2 linked regions of the Homo sapiens genome follow. The protein of the gene in region 2 interacts with the protein of the main gene of each other region in a pairwise test. Each region holds a gene or a part of one and is shown on either strand. Other genes may lie near its edges.

What was found. Proteins that work in one complex are often made in the same cells at the same time.
Region 1: the proteins of COL26A1 (region 2) and LRRC61 interact in binary tests that used the Homo sapiens proteins (3 or more experiments, as listed by UniProt).

What each region holds. Positions count from the first base shown.
Region 1 is NC_000007.14:150,322,018-150,326,154, reverse strand, and holds the start of LRRC61 (leucine-rich repeat-containing protein 61), read right to left. Parts: upstream 2,801-4,137; 5' UTR 2,595-2,800; intron 315-2,594; 5' UTR 145-314; intron 1-144.
Region 2 is NC_000007.14:101,544,375-101,547,874, forward strand, and holds part of COL26A1 (collagen alpha-1(XXVI) chain isoform 1 precursor), read left to right. Parts: intron 1-963; coding exon 964-1,116; intron 1,117-2,781; coding exon 2,782-2,865; intron 2,866-3,500.

The DNA of each region.
Region 1 (4,137 bases), about 49 Mb from region 2:
GGGCTCATCATTAGACCAGGGGGAAAGTGGGGTATGGTGCTATGAGGCGGGGAGGGATCCCTGGGGGGCCCCCGGGCTGACCTACTGAGAAACAGGGTCTATTACACTGAAGAGCTTAGACCCGTCTTGCAAGGTGTTGTTTACCTTAGGCTATTGCTTCACAATCTTCAACCCTCGCAGGCCCGTCAGGTAGATCTGGGATTTTGTGTCATCACTGGTACAACAGTGACACCACCATGTTCTCTTCCACAGAAGTACTTTAGGATGACAGTGCAGCTGGCACTGTTGAGAGCCAACCTTGAATCCAAATGAATCTAAAACGTAAATTTTAAAAAGAAAGTCATTGATAAATTTCAGTACTTTATAACTAAGAAGTTACTTGTGGCCAGGTGTGGTGGCTCACGCCTGTAATCCTAGCACTTTGGGAAGCCAAGGTGGGTGGACTGCTTTGAACTCAGGGGGTTGAGACCAGCTTGGGCAAGATGGCGAAACCTTGTCTTTACAAAAAAAATACAAAAAAATCAGCCAGCTGTGATGGCCTGTGCCTGTGGTCCCAGCTTCTTGGCAGTCTGAGGCAGGAAGATGGCTTGAGCAGGGAAGTGGAGATTGCAGTGAGCCGTGATTGCACCACTGCATTCCAGCCTGAGCAACAGAGCCAGACCCTGTCTCAAAAAAAAGAAGTTACTTGTGACACACATCACCACAGCTGACAACACATTGGAGGCCTACAACCACAACAAGACAAGATTCCAAGGGCTTCTAAGCTGAAGCACGGCCTTTTGGGCTGCACGCCTGCCCATAGTCGATCATGTGGGCAGCAGTCAGGAAAGCGCCCTAGCCAGGCCACATGGGAAGCAGGCACATCCCTGGGAGGCAAAAGGGAAAGCGGGCCAGGCCGGGGTGACGGCAGGGCGGGGTGATGGCACAATGCATGGAGGAGACTGTGGGGAGAGCTGTTCAGGAGGTGGCCCATGCCTAAGCCTCAAGTGGAAGAGGAGGAATGATGGAGAGCGCCTCCACAGTGAGCCTCTTTCCTCATACAGGTCCATGTGGGCTATTTTGGGGCAAATCTTCAGGCAAGTTTCTAGAGAAACTGAAGGAAAACACCAGAGGGGGCTGCCCAGGTAATGCTGACAATACAGGGAGGTGAGAGGATGAGCAGATCTCAAAGGTGACTGAGAGGCAGAGGGGAGAGACAAGGAAAAACCAAAGTAAAGTGAAGTTAGGGAAACCAAGAAAAGACTTTCCAAAAGCAGTGGTCAGCGGGGTCAAAGGTCCCTTCAGTGGGCGGTACAGCAGGAAGTGGGGGAGAAGCAGGAACCGGGAATGCTGGAGGTGGGGATGGGAGGGAAAAGGCTTGGCTCTGTCCCTAAACAGAGAGAAGGTGACCTGGGAAGAGCGGGGAGGCTAACTACACAGGGAAGAGAAGCTTCCTGGAGAAAGGGATCCAGGGCACAGGCGGTGGAAGGGATTGGCCTCAAGAGACCAGGAAGAACTCTCATTTTTCCTGACAGAGAAAGTAGGATGGGTCTGGTAGCAGGCAAGTCCTGGAGTGCTGTGCAGAAGGGAAGTGAGGCAGCTTATGCCTGAGAGCCAGGCATGTTGATTGCTCACGGGGAGCCGTACATCTGTAAAGGCAGCCAGCGGCTGGCTGAGTGATCTGGCTTAGCCTGGGCTGGGAAGCACCTCCGCACACTGGCTCAAGAAATTAGACCTATTCTTCTCGCTGCTCTCACCAAGCCTTTTCCCAAGTGCGTGCCCAGAAGGAAAGCGGCCACTCTTCTACTTCTCTTGTGCCTGCAAGAGAAGTAGAACCCCACCCTGGGCATTCCATGATTATGCCAGGCCTTTCTCACTCCGCCCAGTCCCTCTCCAGCCCCTCTGCTCTCAACTCCAGCACTGCAGGGGGACAGAGTGTCTACTCCACCCCCACCAGGCAGGGGATTTTAAGCACCTGCTGGGCCCTCAAGTCTCATCTTCCTCCACAACATCTGTGAGAAGATTGAAAGGTGGTGAGAGAAAGGGATAGGAGGAGATGAACGTGTGAAAGGAAAAGAGGAGAGCAAGCCATTGCATGTTTTGGGGTTTTGTCCCACACGCAAATTTGACTACTTATAAAGTCTAAGCAAGATGTTTTAAATAATAATCATGCATCATTAGGTTTCATACTGTGCAAAAAAAATGACACAAAGTGAGATCTGTTACAAACGACACGGCAGCACTCTGCTACTTTCTGGAAGCTTAGGGCTAACAATGGAGTCAGAGCATGGCATCCAGAGCCCGTCTCTGAGCACGGCCGTGATCCTGCTCCAGCACACGCCTCGGTTTCCTCGTCTACATTACGGGAATAGTAACAGCACCCGCCTCATGAGATTGTTAGTGTTAAACGAGTTAATTAATACCACAGTATTTCAGGGCAGTTCTCGGCACAGAGGGAGAGATGGGTAAGGGCTGGCTGTTCCGGAAGATTCTGGCCTCTCCCAGTGTGTTTCGGCGCGAGGGCACCGCTGGCCCAGCAGGTGGCCCCCCGGGGCCGGCACGGGCCCCGACAGCCGCCCCCTTCCCTGAACCTCGGCGGCCCAGTCCCCGCTTACCTGAGGGGTGGAGCCGGCAGCCTGCGGAGCCACTGGCCAAGCTGGGAAGTCCGGCGCAACTCCGCACCGCAGAGCCGGCGCCTCCTCGGCAGGTAAGAGCCGCAGCCCCGCCGCCCGCCGCCTGGCGGCCCCTGACCCCTGGGCCGCGTGCCCACCACCCAACTTGTTGGCCAGCGTGCTTCTCCCAGCGCCGCAGGCCTGAGCTCCCGGAACGCGCCCAGGGGGCCTGGCCAAAGGCCGTAGTGGGCGCTCTGGATTCCGGGATGCGCCAGGGGTTACTTCCGGAAGCGCAGCCTGCGGGGGTCTTCGCGCGCACCCCCCGCCTCGCAGTTGGTACGTTCCTCCTACCTGCGGTGCCTGAGTGCGCAGGCGTGGGCAGCGAGGCGGTGCGGCCGGAAGCGAAGGGGCCGTGAGGTCAACAGTCGGTAATCGTTTATCGGTGCGGCCTTAGAGAAAGGACCTCCAAGCCCTTGTTCAATACATGTTGGGTGGTGGTCACAGGTGCCAGTCTCCGGACGGATGGCGGCCTAGATTTCCTCCCGGACTCGGTGGCACCCAAGGCCCCCTGCACGCCGGCGCTGTGCGTGCCAGGCTGACCGCCCGAGTGCGACCCGGACCTCGTCCGCACGTGCAGATGGAAGGGGCCACAAAGACGATAAGGATCCAGGTCTCCCGCGTGGAAGGCTCATCTATCGGTCGGTTCAGGAAATCCACCCAGGGTGTCTCCTGGTGTTATCAGAAAGGGGTCCCGATCCAGGCCCTAAGAGAGGGTTCTTGGATCTCATGCAAGAAAGAATTCAGGGCAAGCCCATAGAGTAAAGTGAAAACAAGTTTATTAAGAAAGCAAAGAAGTAAAAGGATGGCTACTCCATAGGCAGAGCAGCTCCAGGGCTACTGGTTACCCATTTTTTGGTTATTTCTTGATTATATGCTAAACAAGGGTTGAATTATTCATGAGTTTCAGAGAAAGGGGTGGGCAGTTCCCGGAACTGAGGCTTCCTCCCCTTTTTAGACCATATAGAGTATTTCATGATGGTGTCATGGCGTCTGTAAACTGTCATGGTGCTTGCTGGTGGGAGTGTCTTTTAGCATGCTAATGCATTATAATTAGTGCATAATGAGCAGTGAGGACCACCAGAGGTCCCTCCCATTGCCATATTGGTTTTGGTGGCGTTTAGCCAGCTTCTTTACTGCAACCTGTTTTATCAGCAAGGTCTGTATGACCTGTATCTTGTGCCAACCTTCTGTCTCATCCTGTGACTTAGAATGCCTAACCTCCTATGAATGCAGCCTCATTTTACCCAGCCCTTATTCAAGATGGAGTAATTCTGGCTTAAACACCTCTGACACTGGGGCAAATGCCTGCTGCCTGATGACTCCCACAAGTCCTTAACACCTAACCCAGAGAACATCTGGGCCTGCATCCACTCTGGTGCTCTGCCACTCCTGCAGCTACAAATTGTGTGGGAGCCGAAGAAGTCATGTTCCCTGGACGAGCACAAAATGCCTGTTTGTCCCATGTTGGTTCCACATGTGCACCAAA
Region 2 (3,500 bases):
GCGCCACCACACCTGGCTAATTTTGTATTTTCAATAGAGACAGGATTTCACCATGTTGGTCAGGCTGGTCTCGAACTCCTGACCTCAGATGATCCACCCACCTTGGCCTCCCAAAGTGCTGGGATTACAGGCGTGAGCCACCACCTCACCTGGCTTTTTTTTTTTTTTTTTTTTGAGATGGAGTCTTGTGCTGTGTCGCCCAGACTGGAGCACGGTGGCACAATCTCAGCTCACTGACACCTCCACCTCCCAGGTTCAAGCAACTGTCCTGCCTCAGCCTACTGAGTAACTAGGATTACAGGTGCCTGCCACCATGCCTGGCTAATTTTTGTATTTTTAGTAGAGACAGGGTTTCACCATGTTGGCCAGGCTGGTCTTGAACTCCTGACCTCAGGTGACCTGCCTGCCTTGGCCTCCCAAAGTGCTGGGATTACAGGGGTGAGCCACAACACCTGGCCAAAACAGGGTCTTCAGGGGCTTCGGGTACAGGCATGAGCATCGAGGCTGTCAGGGGCCAGGAGCAGTTCTCAGCCATTTAAACACCTCCAGAGACCACCCTCTCAACTCCTCCTGGGTCCTGCCGGGGAAGGACCCCTGGTTCAGCAGGTACAGGGCCAGCCCAGGATGGTGGCTTATACTTGGTGTTCCTGCCACAGGGCTGAAGTCCCTGGGAGGGACCAATGGGCCTCTGGCCAGAGCCTTTGCTGATTTCACCGTCCCTGCCCCCCTCACCCTCCCAAGCTGCCACTAAGTGTCCCCTCTGGACTGGGCTGGGAAGGGAAGCCCATTTCATTTACACCCCAGGACACCCCCAAGGAAGACTGTGGATCGGAGGTCACCACTGACTGCCTGTGGGCCCCTGACCAACCCTGTTTCTTTCAAGGCCTCAGTTTCCCCATTTGTAAGTTGCAGCCACCCGCCAGGCTCCGGCTGCCACAGTGACTGTTCTTTTCCTCATTGCAGGGCTCCTGGGGCCTCCAGGGCCCCGTGGGCTTCCTGGAGAGATGGGGCGCCCCGGCCCCCCAGGACCACCCGGCCCAGCAGGCAACCCAGGCCCCTCACCAAACAGCCCCCAGGGCGCCCTCTACTCCCTGCAGCCGCCTACAGACAAAGACAGTGAGTAATGCCCCTGGGGGGCCAAGGGAGGGCTGAGCTACGCTGTGTTCTGGGAGGGATCAGCCTTCCTTAAAGGATCCTGGGAAGTGGACCCCACCACATGCCCATCCTGCTGCACCCAACTGGCTCACTCCTGCAGGCCTCCTCCAGGAAGCCCTCCATGCAGTGTCCAGGGCCTGCCAGTGACGATGACAGGGAACAGCTTGGGAGCAAGGCTTGGTCCTGGGGCTAAGCATCCTCAAGTGGACCCAGGGCTAGCCCCAAGCCCTGCTTTTGGCCCCAAAGTGGCCTGTCTCTGCCTCAGTGCTCAGCTCCCTGCCTTTGGGGTTGTGAGCCCCAAAGTTCACTCTGCTGGCTGACTTGGCCCAGATTCCCTACCTGGCTACCCCACCCCACCAAGGTTATCCCTTATTGTACTTGTTCCTCACCCGCCCTCACTGCAGGTCATTCAGCAGGTGTTTAGTGAGCACCTACTATGTGCAAGGCACAGGATTTTAGCCACTGGGGACACAGCAATGTGCAAAACAAACTCCGGCCCTCGGGGGCACCGGCCAGTCCAAGAGAGCCTCTGAACACACAGAAATGTCCACTTCTACCTTGGGAGGTGGGGACAAGGAGGTGCAGAGAGTGGACGGGACCAGGACTCTGGGCCTAAGGGACCATGAGGTAGTGGGAGGCCAGGCAGAGGAGTCCGTGAGCCCTGAGAGGAGCATCATTTCTGGTTAAGTGTCCCGGCAACTGGGGAAGATTTTTACTTTAATTTTTTTTGACATAGGGTCTGTTGCCCAGGCTGGAATGCAGTGGCGCCATCATAGCTCCCTGCAGCCTCTCACTCCTGGGCTCAAGGGATCCTCCCACCTCAGCCTCCTGAGTAGCTAGGACCCTAGGCATGTATCGCCACATCTAACTAATTTTTTTTTTTTTTTTTGAGTGGAGATGGGGTCTCACAATGTTGCCCAGGCTGGTCTGGAGATGTGGTCTCACTATGTTGGGCAGGCTGGTCTTGAACTCCTGGCCTCAAGTGATCCTCCCTCCTCAGCCTCCCAAAGTGCTGGGAGTACAGGTGTGAGCCACTGTGCCCAGCCTGGGGAAGGGTTTTATGAGGAAGGTGATGGCATTGCCCTGGGGCCCTGGGTCTGGTTCAGGATTGGCCAGGGTGAATCAGGTGAGGGGCTCATCCTGGAGGGCCATGGGAGATGGGTTGTTAAACAGACTCCACCCCTGCTCCAGGCAGTGTGGTCGCCATGATGTAATCAGACTCCCCAGGCACAGCTCAGAGGGGTGGGCATGGAGGGCTTCCTGGAGGAGTGAGCCAGTTGGGTGCAGCAGGATGGGCCTGTGGGATGGAGCCTGGAAGAAGATGCCAGCCTGGGGCATTGGAGAAGTGAGCAGGGCAGACCCAGAGTCTGAAGAGCCTGGAATGTTCTAGAAGGTATTTATGTTTTATATGAAGCTGACCGACCTGGCTTTCCCTGCTCTTTGTCTGGGCCTCTCCGTGCTCCTCTGAGCAGTGGGGGCAACAGTATCTGCAGCGGGCCCCAGGGTGATGGGAGGAGCCCCCCTGGGCTTCGTGTGGCCTGGCTCAGGGCTCAGTGCCCCGGACCAGCCTCCCAGCACTGCCAGGTCTGCCCCACCAGACCCCTGGCCGCTCCGCTCTTCCCACAGATGGAGACTCAAGGCTGGCCTCTGCCATCGTGGACACAGTGCTGGCAGGTGTCCCAGGACCCCGGGGTCCCCCTGGTCCACCAGGTAAGTGAATGGTGGGCTGGCCTGCATTGAGGACTCCATCCCCCCAGGGCTGGCCTGAGCCATGGGGCCTTGAGGGGAGCTGGAGGTCGGCTGGCGGTCCATGGCTTCTGGGCAATGCTGGGGACTGGGTCTGTCCCACCCGCTGTGTGGCAGGAAATGAAGCCCCTCGTTTCCTAGTGGCAGTGCCCCTGGGGGACTGGATGCATGAAACCCACGTGATTCTGCTGGAATAAGATGCCTGCATGAGGCTGCCCTTGCATGGGCCAGAGTGGGACACACACCAGTGGGGGATGGGGTCAGGACAGAGGTGGCAGGAAGTCCCTACCTTTGAGGCAGAAACCAAGGGGTTCAAAGGGGCTGGGACCTGGCTGTCAGTCCTGGCCTGACCTTCCATCATCCACATTCCTCATTGGGGGAAGAATGCAGGGCTGACTGCCTTGTCCCTTTCTGCCCGGGAAGGGAGTCATTCATTCATTCATTCATTTGTTTATTCACTGATTCATTCATTCTTTTATTCATTCATTTATTCATTCATTCGTTCATTCATTCATTCATTTGTCCATTCATTCATTCGTTCATTCATTCATTCGTTTATTCATTCATTCATTCATTTCTCTGTGCGTCTCACAAACATT